3 linked regions of the Homo sapiens genome follow. The protein of the gene in region 3 purifies or fractionates together with the protein of the main gene of each other region. This does not show direct contact. Each region holds a gene or a part of one and is shown on either strand. Other genes may lie near its edges.

Evidence for each region.
Region 1: the proteins of UFD1 (region 3) and ARMC1 fractionate together in Homo sapiens (co-fractionation; one large-scale study listed by BioGRID). This does not show direct contact.
Region 2: the proteins of UFD1 (region 3) and SEPTIN11 fractionate together in Homo sapiens (co-fractionation; one large-scale study listed by BioGRID). This does not show direct contact.

Annotation. Positions count from the first base shown.
Region 1 is NC_000008.11:65,624,178-65,627,677, forward strand, and holds part of ARMC1 (armadillo repeat-containing protein 1), read right to left. Parts: intron 3,257-3,500; 5' UTR 3,222-3,256; coding exon 3,039-3,221; intron 1-3,038.
Region 2 is NC_000004.12:77,029,688-77,033,419, reverse strand, and holds part of SEPTIN11 (septin-11), read right to left. Parts: intron 2,638-3,732; coding exon 2,450-2,637; intron 1-2,449. UniProt on the Homo sapiens protein: Filament-forming cytoskeletal GTPase. May play a role in cytokinesis. May play a role in the cytoarchitecture of neurons, including dendritic arborization and dendritic spines, and in GABAergic synaptic connectivity.
Region 3 is NC_000022.11:19,462,026-19,465,757, forward strand, and holds part of UFD1 (ubiquitin recognition factor in ER-associated degradation protein 1), read right to left. Parts: intron 3,250-3,732; coding exon 3,177-3,249; intron 1-3,176. UniProt on the Homo sapiens protein: Essential component of the ubiquitin-dependent proteolytic pathway which degrades ubiquitin fusion proteins.

The sequences.
Region 1 (3,500 bases), on a different chromosome or scaffold from region 3:
GAAATGTAAAAATGAAGGTAAATATAAAAGACCTTTTTTTGCTAGGCATGGTGGCTCACGCCTATAATCTCAGTACCTTGGGAAGCTGAGGGGGGCAGATCACCTGAACTCAGGAGTTCAAGACCAGCCTGGCCAACATGGCGAAACCCTGTCTCTACTAAAAATACAAAAATTAGCCAGGCATGCTGACATGCACCTGTAATCTCAGCTGCTAGGGAGGCTGAGGCAGAAGAATCATTTGAACCCGGGAGGCAGAGGTTGCAGTGAGCTGAGATTGCGCCACTGCACTCCAGCCTAGGTGACAGAGCAAGACTCCATCTCAAAAAAAAAAAAAGACATTTTTAAATTTTTAATCTCTTTAAAAGATAATTGACTGTTTAAGGCAAAAATATATACACTGTAGGTTTTTAAACATATGTAGAAGTAAAATGTATGACAAAAATAGCACAAAAGATGGGAGAAAGAAATGGAAATATACTCTTGTGTGATTCTTACACTACATGTTAAGGGTATGATTCATTTAAAGGTAGGCTGTAAGAAGTTAAAGATGCATATTGTAAAACCTACAGCAACCACTAAATAAATTAAAATAAAAACAAAAGTGTATACTAATAAGCTAACAGTGACGAAAAAAGGAAATCATAAAAACAACACACCCAATGGCCAGGCATGGTGGCTCACACCTGTAATTTCAGCACTTTGAGAGGCCAAGACAGGCAGATCACCTGAGGTCATGAGTTCGAGACTAGCCTGGCCAACATGGTGAAAAACCGTCTCTACTAAAAATACAAAAATTAGCCACATGTGATGGTGCGGGCCTGTAATTCTAGCTACTCAGAAGGCTGAGGCAGGAGAATCGCTTGAACCCAGGAGGCGGAGGTTGCAGTGAGCCAAGATTGTGCCATTGCTCTCCAGCCTGGGTGGCAAGAGCAAAAACTCTGTCTCAAAAACAACAACAAAAAAATCTTTTCTTCAGCCTCTTGGGAACTTTCACTCACTGATCCCTCTCCTTAGCTCTGTCCCTCCATGACTTTATACTTCCCTTCCTATTCAGCCTAGTATCTACTGTATATCATTTCAACCAATCCTGCCAAGATCCTAAACTCCCTTGCACAATCATTCTGCCCAACTTAACCTGGCCAAGTAACAACTCTAGACAAATCCAAGTACTTGGCTCTGTGAGCCTACAACAGGCCTGAATCATATCGATTCAGTATTACCAAACTAATCAGCCCTCAACACTGCTGAACAACTTTATCATTCTCCTCAGTTAGCAAATCTTTCCTATTTTCTGCAATTATGAGAGCCTTCCCCTCAAACCTCTCCCATTCTAGTAGCCCTTGCCCTCTGAACTTAGACATATTCTAGTCTATTTAAAAATAAAAAAGACTTACTTCCTTTAGCCCCAAGTCCCTATCTATAGATCAACCCCCTCTTTCTTCTCATCCTTCTTGCATTTCTTATTGAAATTGAACCCAGACTGGGGACTGTGCCATTTTTCCCATTTGTTACTACTGTTCTCTTACACCAATGTCTTTTTTGACTGCTAAACTTCATTCTGTAAAGGCAAAATAGAAATTTTTTTCCAAAAGGAAAAGTCTATATGCCTTCTGTACAAACTTGTGAAATTAGACTAAATGGGGAATCATCACGAGTCCTTAAGTAAAGGGCAATAGATAAAATTTCCAAAACATTAATTTTTTTAACAACTTTTTTTTTTTTTTTTTTGAGACGGAGTTTCACTCTTGTTGCCCAGGCTCGAGTGCAATGGCACAATCTTGGCTCACTGCAACCTCTGCCTCCTGGGTTCAAGGGATTCTCCTGCCTCAGCCTCCTGAGTAGCTGGGATTTCAGGCACCCACCACCACGCCCGGCTAATTGTTTTGTATTTTTAGTACAGACAGGGTTTCACTACGTTGGCCAAGCTGGTGTCAAACTCCTGACCTCAGGTGATCCACCCACCTCGGCCTCCCAAAGTGCTAGGATTACAGGAGTGAGCCACCACGTCTGGCCCTATTTATATGCAAAATATATAGGCATTTTTGCCAGAATAGGCAAATATAGACATACAAAAAGTAGATTAGTAGTTGCTTAGGGACAGGGAGTGTTGGGGTCTGGGAAGCAATAGATAAAAAGTTGTGGTGGGCCGGGCACAGTGGCTCACATCTGTAATCTAAGCACTTTGAGAGCTCGAGGTAGAAGAATCACTTGAGGCCAGGAGTTTGAGACCAGCCTAGTTAACATAGCTACATCCTATCTCTACTAAAAAAAAAAAAAAAAATTTATTTATAATAAATAAAAATAAAAAGTTGTGGTGATGGTGACACACAACTCTGTGAATATACTAAAATCACTTAATTGTATACTTTAAATGAGTGAATTATATGATGCTGTGTGCTTACATCTTAAAAAGCTGTTATAAAATAAAAACAAAATAAGTGCCTCTTTGAGTGTCTCTGTGTATGATATGATCCAATCCTCAAGATTGTTAAATGAAAAGGAAGTGGTAGGACATTCCATGCATGGAGTATGCAACAATTTGTATAAAAGAATAAAAACAAGGCTGGCCATGGTGACTCACAGCTGTAATTCCAACACTTTGGGAGGCCAAAGTGGAAGGATCACTTGAGCTCAGGAGTTTGAGCCTGGCCAACATGGCGAAACCCTATCTCTACAAAATATCAAAAATTTGGCTGGCATGGTGGTGTGTGCCTATCATCCCAGCTACTTGGGAGGCTGAGGTCGGGGGGATGGTTTAAGCCCAGGAGGTGGAGATTGCAGTGAACTAAGATCCTGCCACAGTGTACTCCAGGCCTAGATGACTCAAAAAAAAAAAAATAAAGAATAAAAACAATGTAGCATGTTACCACTGGTGTAAACAGACCACAGACCACACATACATATGTTTGTACCTACATAAATACAAACAACTAATTGCTCTCTTTCCGTTTTTTTACCTTGTCATCTAGCACTTTTTCCAAATTCTCACCTTAACTGCAAAAATAGAACAGAGATTGAAATTACTAAAGGCAACTTACAAGCAAAGCGGAGTGGACGACTGGAGGGTTGGGATGGTCCATAAATAAAATAAGGCCAGGCAGACATCCCTGATCCTGGACGATGGCTCTTCTGTTTAACGGATCTGCTGCTAGATCCCGTAACTGGTTAACTACCGATAGAGCGTCAGGCTCTTCACTCATGGTGGAAGTGGAAGAATTCATCTTCTATGCCATGCACATGAATAAAATCTTAAATTCTGTAGAAAAGGTTTGCAGAATTAGTTCTAGGCTGCTGAGGTATATTATAGCACTTGTGAAATAACCAGGATTACAACACCTTTAGAAAGAATCAGGTAACTAAAACTAAATCACATAAAAACTTAGAAATCGGCAACTCTACAGTTTGAGAAAAGTAAAATGAACGTAAGACGACTGAAAAAATTTGTGTGCACAATGTTTAAAGAACATATGTTGTCCTCAATATTCCAATAAATTATGTTT
Region 2 (3,732 bases), on a different chromosome or scaffold from region 3:
AAACTATTAGAAAAACTAAGTTAGGCTTGGAGGTGGAAGCATAGCAGGTAAATAAGTAAGCATCTGCCTTTTCATTTTCTACCTATAACAAAGTCAGTTCCTGAATGGCAACTCCCACATCTGTTCCAGCTATGCTAGGAGGCATCTTCCCAGCTCTTTTCAAAGTGCTGCTCTGTCTAGCCTGGCCACTGTCTTTCTGCGGTCCCTCTAACCAAAACACTCCACTACCACTGGCAGTAAGAGGTGTGATTTTTTTTTTTCTTGGACATTTCAGGCCTCCACTGGCAGTTGCTTTCACTGTACAAATGTAAAGTGTGGAAAAGGGTAAGGACCTAGAAAAAGTTATACAAAAAATATGTGCCATTGTCAGGTGCAAAACCTGGCGACTACTCTGAACCAAATTAAGTATAATATCCTTCAAAATAAATGAGAATATATAAATAAGCTAAAATAGAATCCACACAGGCTTCATAGAAACTTTGAAAGCATTACACATTGGTAAGGCCCCAGGATAGGAAGAAAATAACCTAACATGTTCAAAAGGGCAAGGAAAAACCTCCCTACACTGGGAAGTTTGTTACTAAATAAACTTTTCTAAAATGGAAGCACAATAATGATCAGCTCTTGGAATTTTTATTGCTTAAAGGCACGTCTAGTATACACGAAATACTCTTTTAACATTGCTGGTCTTTTGGAAACATTCTTAGTTTTAAAACTTGAACCTTTATGCACTGAGTGCCTCAGGGTGAAAAGAAAAACTTGACTTTGCATTTCCTAAGCTGTAAGTCAGCAGCTTTTTGTCTCATTCATACCTATAGATGTATGTGTACACACACACAAACACACACACACAGACACATACACACCCCTATATCCTTGGTTAGTTTAGCTTGGATTAACAAAGGTACAATGCCCAATGGCTTTCATCTGTCTTCACTGGAAGAGTCACTGTAATCTGAGTCTCTGCATGGGAAACATCACCATTAGTGTTAGATGCTCTCCCGACATGCATAGCTACAAAGGGTTTTCTTAGATTATAATCTATGTGCTTGTTACTCTCAGAATTAATCCAGCATAACTAAATTTTGGGCCTTGAACTCCTTTGGTCACTTGGATCTGTGCCAACTCCAAATAAAATCACAACCATTTCAATTATTGTTCAGAACATTTGCCTCCTCCCTTGCTCTGGTGATACATTTTCTGCTGTCTCAGAGCTCAGAATGTCAGTTTGTAAAGCATGATTTAAAACTCTCTCAGTATGTCATTGTAGCAGTCCATTTTTATTTTTACTGCAGGCAACATGAGATTCCTTAGGGGTGAGCCTACTGCACATTCACCAAGACTAAGTGGACAATAGCACTGTGCTCACTTTTCCCTATAACACATCTCAATTATTGTGCAGAGACTTGATCCTATGTACTCTATGTTTAAAGAATGTAATTCTTTATGTGCTTGAGCATCAATGTTTTTACATATGGTCAGCTTTTTCCCTAGAACCTTGGCATGTAAGGCGAAAGAGCAACACTTCCTGAAACAAGTTCTGAGTTGCTTTATATTAAATAGCTGCCCTAAAGCACCGTACATTAGACAAAGGAGGGTGGCATCTGCATATTTGTCATTGAGACACCACAAAGGTTTTCGTTAGTGGTATTCTTACCATCGTGCTTCCTGTCAAAACCGATAGCATTGACATAAAACTAGGCTTTATGATGATTCAAAGGAGAGCTTCAAATCACAGGAGAATGTCAAGGGAGGCCTAAATCTCCCACTGGTTTCAGGCAGCTGCTACTGGAGTATCACAGGAAGTGACCAACTCAAGAGCAGAATCTGACCCTTTGGCACATGACATTAAGACCCTATTTAAAAAAAACCTTTTATGAATGGGTTTAGGTTTGGCTTGAGGTTGGCAGAGGTGTCAACTGGATAGGCATTTGGATCCCATTTCACAATAAAACAATTCATCATATTGAATTTTGAGGAAACTAGTGGCCACTAGCAGCTCTTCCAAATGTTTCATTTTGGGAACGAGAATTTCAGTGACTGGCTTACGAAGTCTTACAACACAGAATAGGAAAATAATTTTAACAATTGTGATTTTAGGATGCTCTCTATCAAGAGTCATGAGAATTGTCTTCAGAGGGTGCTGAAGAGACATCAACCTGTCTTCTTTGAGACTCCTAGTGTTGGTGTGGAAGATGCTACTGGAGACAACAGGTTCCTCCAGGCCTGATTGCTTGGTCAATTGTGGTAAAGTTTTATAAATTAATCTTTGTGTACCTTTTAAAAAAATTTAAAAACCTTCATCATCTTCCCTGCACTGTAGAGAAAATACTTGCTTTTATCTTTCTGGTAAAGGACCAGTTTCCAGTCTGTAAATGGGAAAAGTAGAGACATGCAAGAGGAATAAATTGTTAGAGGTCCCCGATACAGGGGGGTGACACCTGCTTACTTTTTCTTATCCTTGTCTTTCTTGGTTTGCTGGGCCCCAGATTGCTGGGCCTGGGACTGTAGTAACTGAGCCGCTGCTTTCTTCTTCTGGAAGTTGTTCACCTCCTCCTCAAGCTCCTTCTTCTTGTCTTCCACTTTCTTCTTTTCTTCTTGGTGTGTCCGCTTTAGAAGGTCAAACTTCTCGTGAAGCTGGAGAGAAAAAGAAAACAGGCTTGGTGAATGGAATGAAAATCCTTTTGATGTAAAGTTCTTTGGATCTGTTCAAAAAACAAAACATGGCCAGGCACGGTGGCTCACGCCTGTAATTTCAGCACTTTGGGAGGCCGAGGTGGGTGGATCACGAGGTCAGGAGTTCAAGACCAGCCTGGCCAAGATGGTGAAACCCCATCTCTACTAAAAATACAAAAATTAGCCAGGCGTGGTGGCGGGTGCCTGTAATCCCTGCTACTCAAGAGGCTGAGGCAGAGAATTGCTTGAACCTGGGAGGCGGAGGTTGCAGTGAGCTGAGATCGTACCACTGCACTCCAGCCTGGGTGACAGAGACTCCGTCTCAAAAGAAAATAAAAGAAAACAAACAAATATGTGTCATGTGGCTGCACTGGCTTTAATACAGGTGTAAAGTACCATTTTGCTGACTTCCTGGAGGAGCTGAGCTGGGATGCTGAAGAGCATCCCTCAGAGTCCCAGACTCCTGTGACACTAGAACTCCTTGGGACTAAAAATTCCTTCGCTCTGTTGCCCAGGCTGGAGAGTAGTGACACAATCTCAGCTCACTGCAACCTCTGTCTCCTGGGTTCAAGCAATTCTCCTGCTTCAGCCTCTCGAGTAGCTGGGATTATGGGCATGCGCCACCACACCCAGCTAATTTTTGTATCTTTAGTAGAGACGGGGTTTCACCATTTGCCCAGGCTGGTCTCGAACTCCTGACCTCGTGATCCTCCCACCTTGGCATCCCAAGGTGCTGGGATTACAGGCGTGAACCACTGCACCTGGCCAAAAATAATTATGATCCCAACAAAAAACTCACCCTAGTGGTAAAAGTGGTTCTTTACCTCTGGTCCTTTTTCGAAATGTATAAAAAACATTTACTTAGAAATATATACAATGACTACATATATGTATGTGTTTGTATATATATACACATATATATGTGTATGTATATATGTGTGTATATGTGTGTGTATATATATGTGTGTGTGTGTGTATATATATATATATGCATTATGTATTAGCTACTTAAATAATGTGTTGGGAAATTTCTGGCCCTTGAGGGAAGGAAGGGGA
Region 3 (3,732 bases):
GTCTTGCTTTATCACCTAGGCTAGAGTGCAGTGGCACGGTCACTGTTCACTGCAACTTCTGCCTCCCGGACTCAAGTGATCCTCCCACTTCAGCCTCCCAGGTAGCTGGGACTACAGGTGCATGCCACCATGCCCAGCTAATTTTTGTATTTTTTGTCGAGATGGGGTTTTGCCATGTTGCCCAGTCTGGTCTCAAACTCCTGGACTTAAGTGATCCACCCACCTCAGCCTCCCAAATTGCTGGGATTACAGGTGTGAGCTACCACACCCAGCTTCAGCTATCTTTTTTATTAACTTTATTGAATTGTAAACAGAGAACACTTTAATTCTAAACAACTCTCTCAAGAGAGTAAGTCTAGGCCAGGCGCGGTGGCTCACATCTATAATCCCAGCACTTTGGGAGGCTGAGGCTGATGGCTCACCTGAGGTCAGGAGTTCGAGACCAGCCTGGCCAACATGGTGAAACCTCGTCTCTACTAAAAATACAAAAGTAGCCGCAAGTGGTGGCACATGCCTGTAGTCCCAGCTACTCAGGTGGCTGAGATGAGACAGGAGAATTGCTCGAACCCAGGAGGTGGTAGCTGCAGTGAGCCAAGATCGCGCCACTGCACTCCAGCCAGGGTGAGACAAAGAGAGACTCTCTCAAAAAAAAAGAGAGTAAGTCTAAAGACTTACTCTTTTCCAACATTTTAGATGTCATTTTTTAAGCTTCATACATTAAACATTATTACTGCTTTATATGGCAACATTTACCCTGGATTCATATTTGCCAATTTATTTATTCCCTATTCCTTCTTGCTTTCCTTCTAGGATAATGCTTATTCCTAAAGTACATGCTTTTAAAATTCCATTGGTAAATAACCTCTCTCAGATTTGGTTCATCTGAAAATATTTTCACTTTGCCCTTATTCTTTAAGGAAGGTTTTGATGATAGTTACTTGATACTGGCTGTAACTGTTGCTATTCAAAGACCTGCTACTTGCTGTTCTTCTGAAGGTACTGTGTTTTCTCCCTGCTTACCTCTCTGTATTTGGTATTTTCTACCTGTAGCTTATTCTGTTTGTTATACATTATAAATTTCCTGTCATGATGGGCTGACCACCAATTCTAAATCAATTTCAGTTACCATCTCTTCAGATTATTGCAATTCCTCCATTCTTTCCTACTGGGATTGCAATGGGCATGTTTGACTTTCTCAGTGTCTTCAACATCTCAAGCTCTCATATGTTCCATCCCCTTGCTCCTCTGTGTGAAATTCTGTTATTTCTTCAGATTCATCTTTCATTAACTCTTTTATAGCTGTTGTTTAACATTGTTTTTCAAATCTTTCTGGTTATTTTTGATAGCCTTTTGTTGCTCGCTATTATAATTCCATTTTAAAAAATATCTTTGAACATTTTATATCTAATTATTTTACATTTGTATCTAGAAATTCTAATGCTGATTTCCTTAGGGATCTAATTTTTATTGTCTCTGCTTTGGTGTAGTTTAATTATGTGTTCTTTGCTTGTTCAATTGACAGCAATCCCAAAGACGTAACTAAACTGGAGTGCTTTTTCCAGAGAGGATCTGTTTATTTCTCCTGAGACAATGACAACACCCACCTCTGTGTATATTTTACTGCTTTTAAGGGTTCCCGTTCAATCCTGATCTCTGACTCAGATCTCCCACTAGAGCACTGATATGGCCATCTGCCCTCAGGGCAACCCAGCTTAGAGTGTTTAAAATTCTCTATAAGCACAACAGTACATTAATCAGAAGGGCCCATTAGAGGATCTAGTTTTCCCTACTTCTAAAAGTGGAAGTTCAAACCTGTGTTTCAATTTTACATACACTCTTATATAATGTACCCTCCCTTAGAGTGCAAAGTATCAGTACTATCCTTTATCATCAGTTTAGGAGTTATATGTAGTATTACTACCTTAACATTAAAAACAATAACATTAAACTGCCTGTAATTAATTATAAAAGCTTAGAGTATTCAGTTAAGGTAAACGATACCTAAAATGTTCTCCACAAAGCTAAAGGGAACAAGATTATTTCTTAGTTTATTAAAAGGAAAAAAGAAAGTGTGATTCGAAACCCAAGGAACTGAAAAATAAGGTCAGATGCCTCAAATATGAGGAAACTGCCAGAGAATAAGCTGGATCCCTGCACTGACACCAAGGGAGTAACTGGCTAAACCACAGGCAGCTGTGACACAGCTGTGACGGCCCAGTCCCCGAAGGGACCAGAGAGTGCTGTGAAGGAGCTAAGTGCTAGCTTCAGGGAAAGCCCAGCCAAGCCAGGCTGTGGTCACTCCCGAACACTAAGGCTAGCCCTGGCAACAGCTCTGTGGGAGGGTCAATTGTCAACAGTCACAGTGAACAGGGGCACCCATATTACTGTGCTCCATGCCTGTGGTGGGACAGCCTGATGGCAGGATTGCCAACTATTACATCCTCCTGCAGGCATATTCCCATAGGTAATAGGAAAGTGAATGCTTTCTTGAATTTTGGACTAAGTCCTGTCATTTCACTTTACAGTTAAATTGTCTAGATCCAGACACCTAAACAGCATAAAATCAGGGATGAAAACAGAGGCATTCAGACCTGAGAGACTTGTGTCAGAAAGGTCAAGCCTAGAGAAGCTGCTAAGTGAAAACGGAAGCTGAAGAAAACAGGAGGTGGAGGAGGATGTGGGCTCCCAGGAGGAGAGGTGAGCCTAGGAGGTGTTGCCCTAAGGCAGAGCCAGGCTTTGCTTCTCAGATGCCACACAGCACTTGGCCCCACTGAAGGGCCTGTCAGCTTCTGTGGGGCAGGTATCCCAAGGACAAGGACCCAGCAGGGTTGTTATTGTGTCTCCACAGCCCTGCAAAGGGCTTAGCTCAGATTAGAGGTGCAGTGGGGACCTTTCAAACCAAGACAGAACCAGCAGCCTTGCCACCAAGGTACACAGAGGTATGACTAATAAGTCTATCAATGTTCCCCTGTAAATGCAATCTATCCTCAAAACAGAGTTACCAAATGAATTAGGGCTCTAAATATGAACCCGGGAAAACTTAATAACCAAACAGTAGGCAGTAATTAGGTGATAAGATCCAGGCATACGCTGCTTAAAAAGAAGCCCCATTCAAACATTAGAATGGACACTGCAGGTGGCTCTTGTCAGGAATGACCTGCATGAACTGGGCTCACCTTTTCATTATAGTTGATGGCAATCACATCCCCGGTGGTCAGACAGGCAAAGTTCCTAAGTGCGTTTTCTAATCTGCAGACACATTCTGTCAAGGCAACATGGCAAGATGGATACCTTAATCTGAAACAAGTTTCCATGTTAGATGATTACTGGTAGGTAGAGACTGTACCATGATGGTACTTGAAACACGAAGCTTTTAATACAATAAAGTACTACTTGGCAATAAAGAAGGATGGAACTCCTAATATGCAATAATATGGATGAAATGCCAAGCTGGGGTAACAAATGCCAAGCTGGGGGAAGGGGAAATAACCAACCACAAAAGGGCAGTGAGATTCCATCCACATGGAACCCTGAGAAAGACAGATCTATGAGGATGGGAGGTAGCTGAGAGGTTTCTGGGCCAGGGGATCAGGTGGGGACTGACAGGAAAGGACCTTTTGGGGACATGGAAATGTTCTGATTACATGGGTGTATACATTTTCAAACTGGCTGAACTGTGTGCATTTTATTGTATACAAATTATACCATGGGATTTTAAAAAATCCTGTGGGA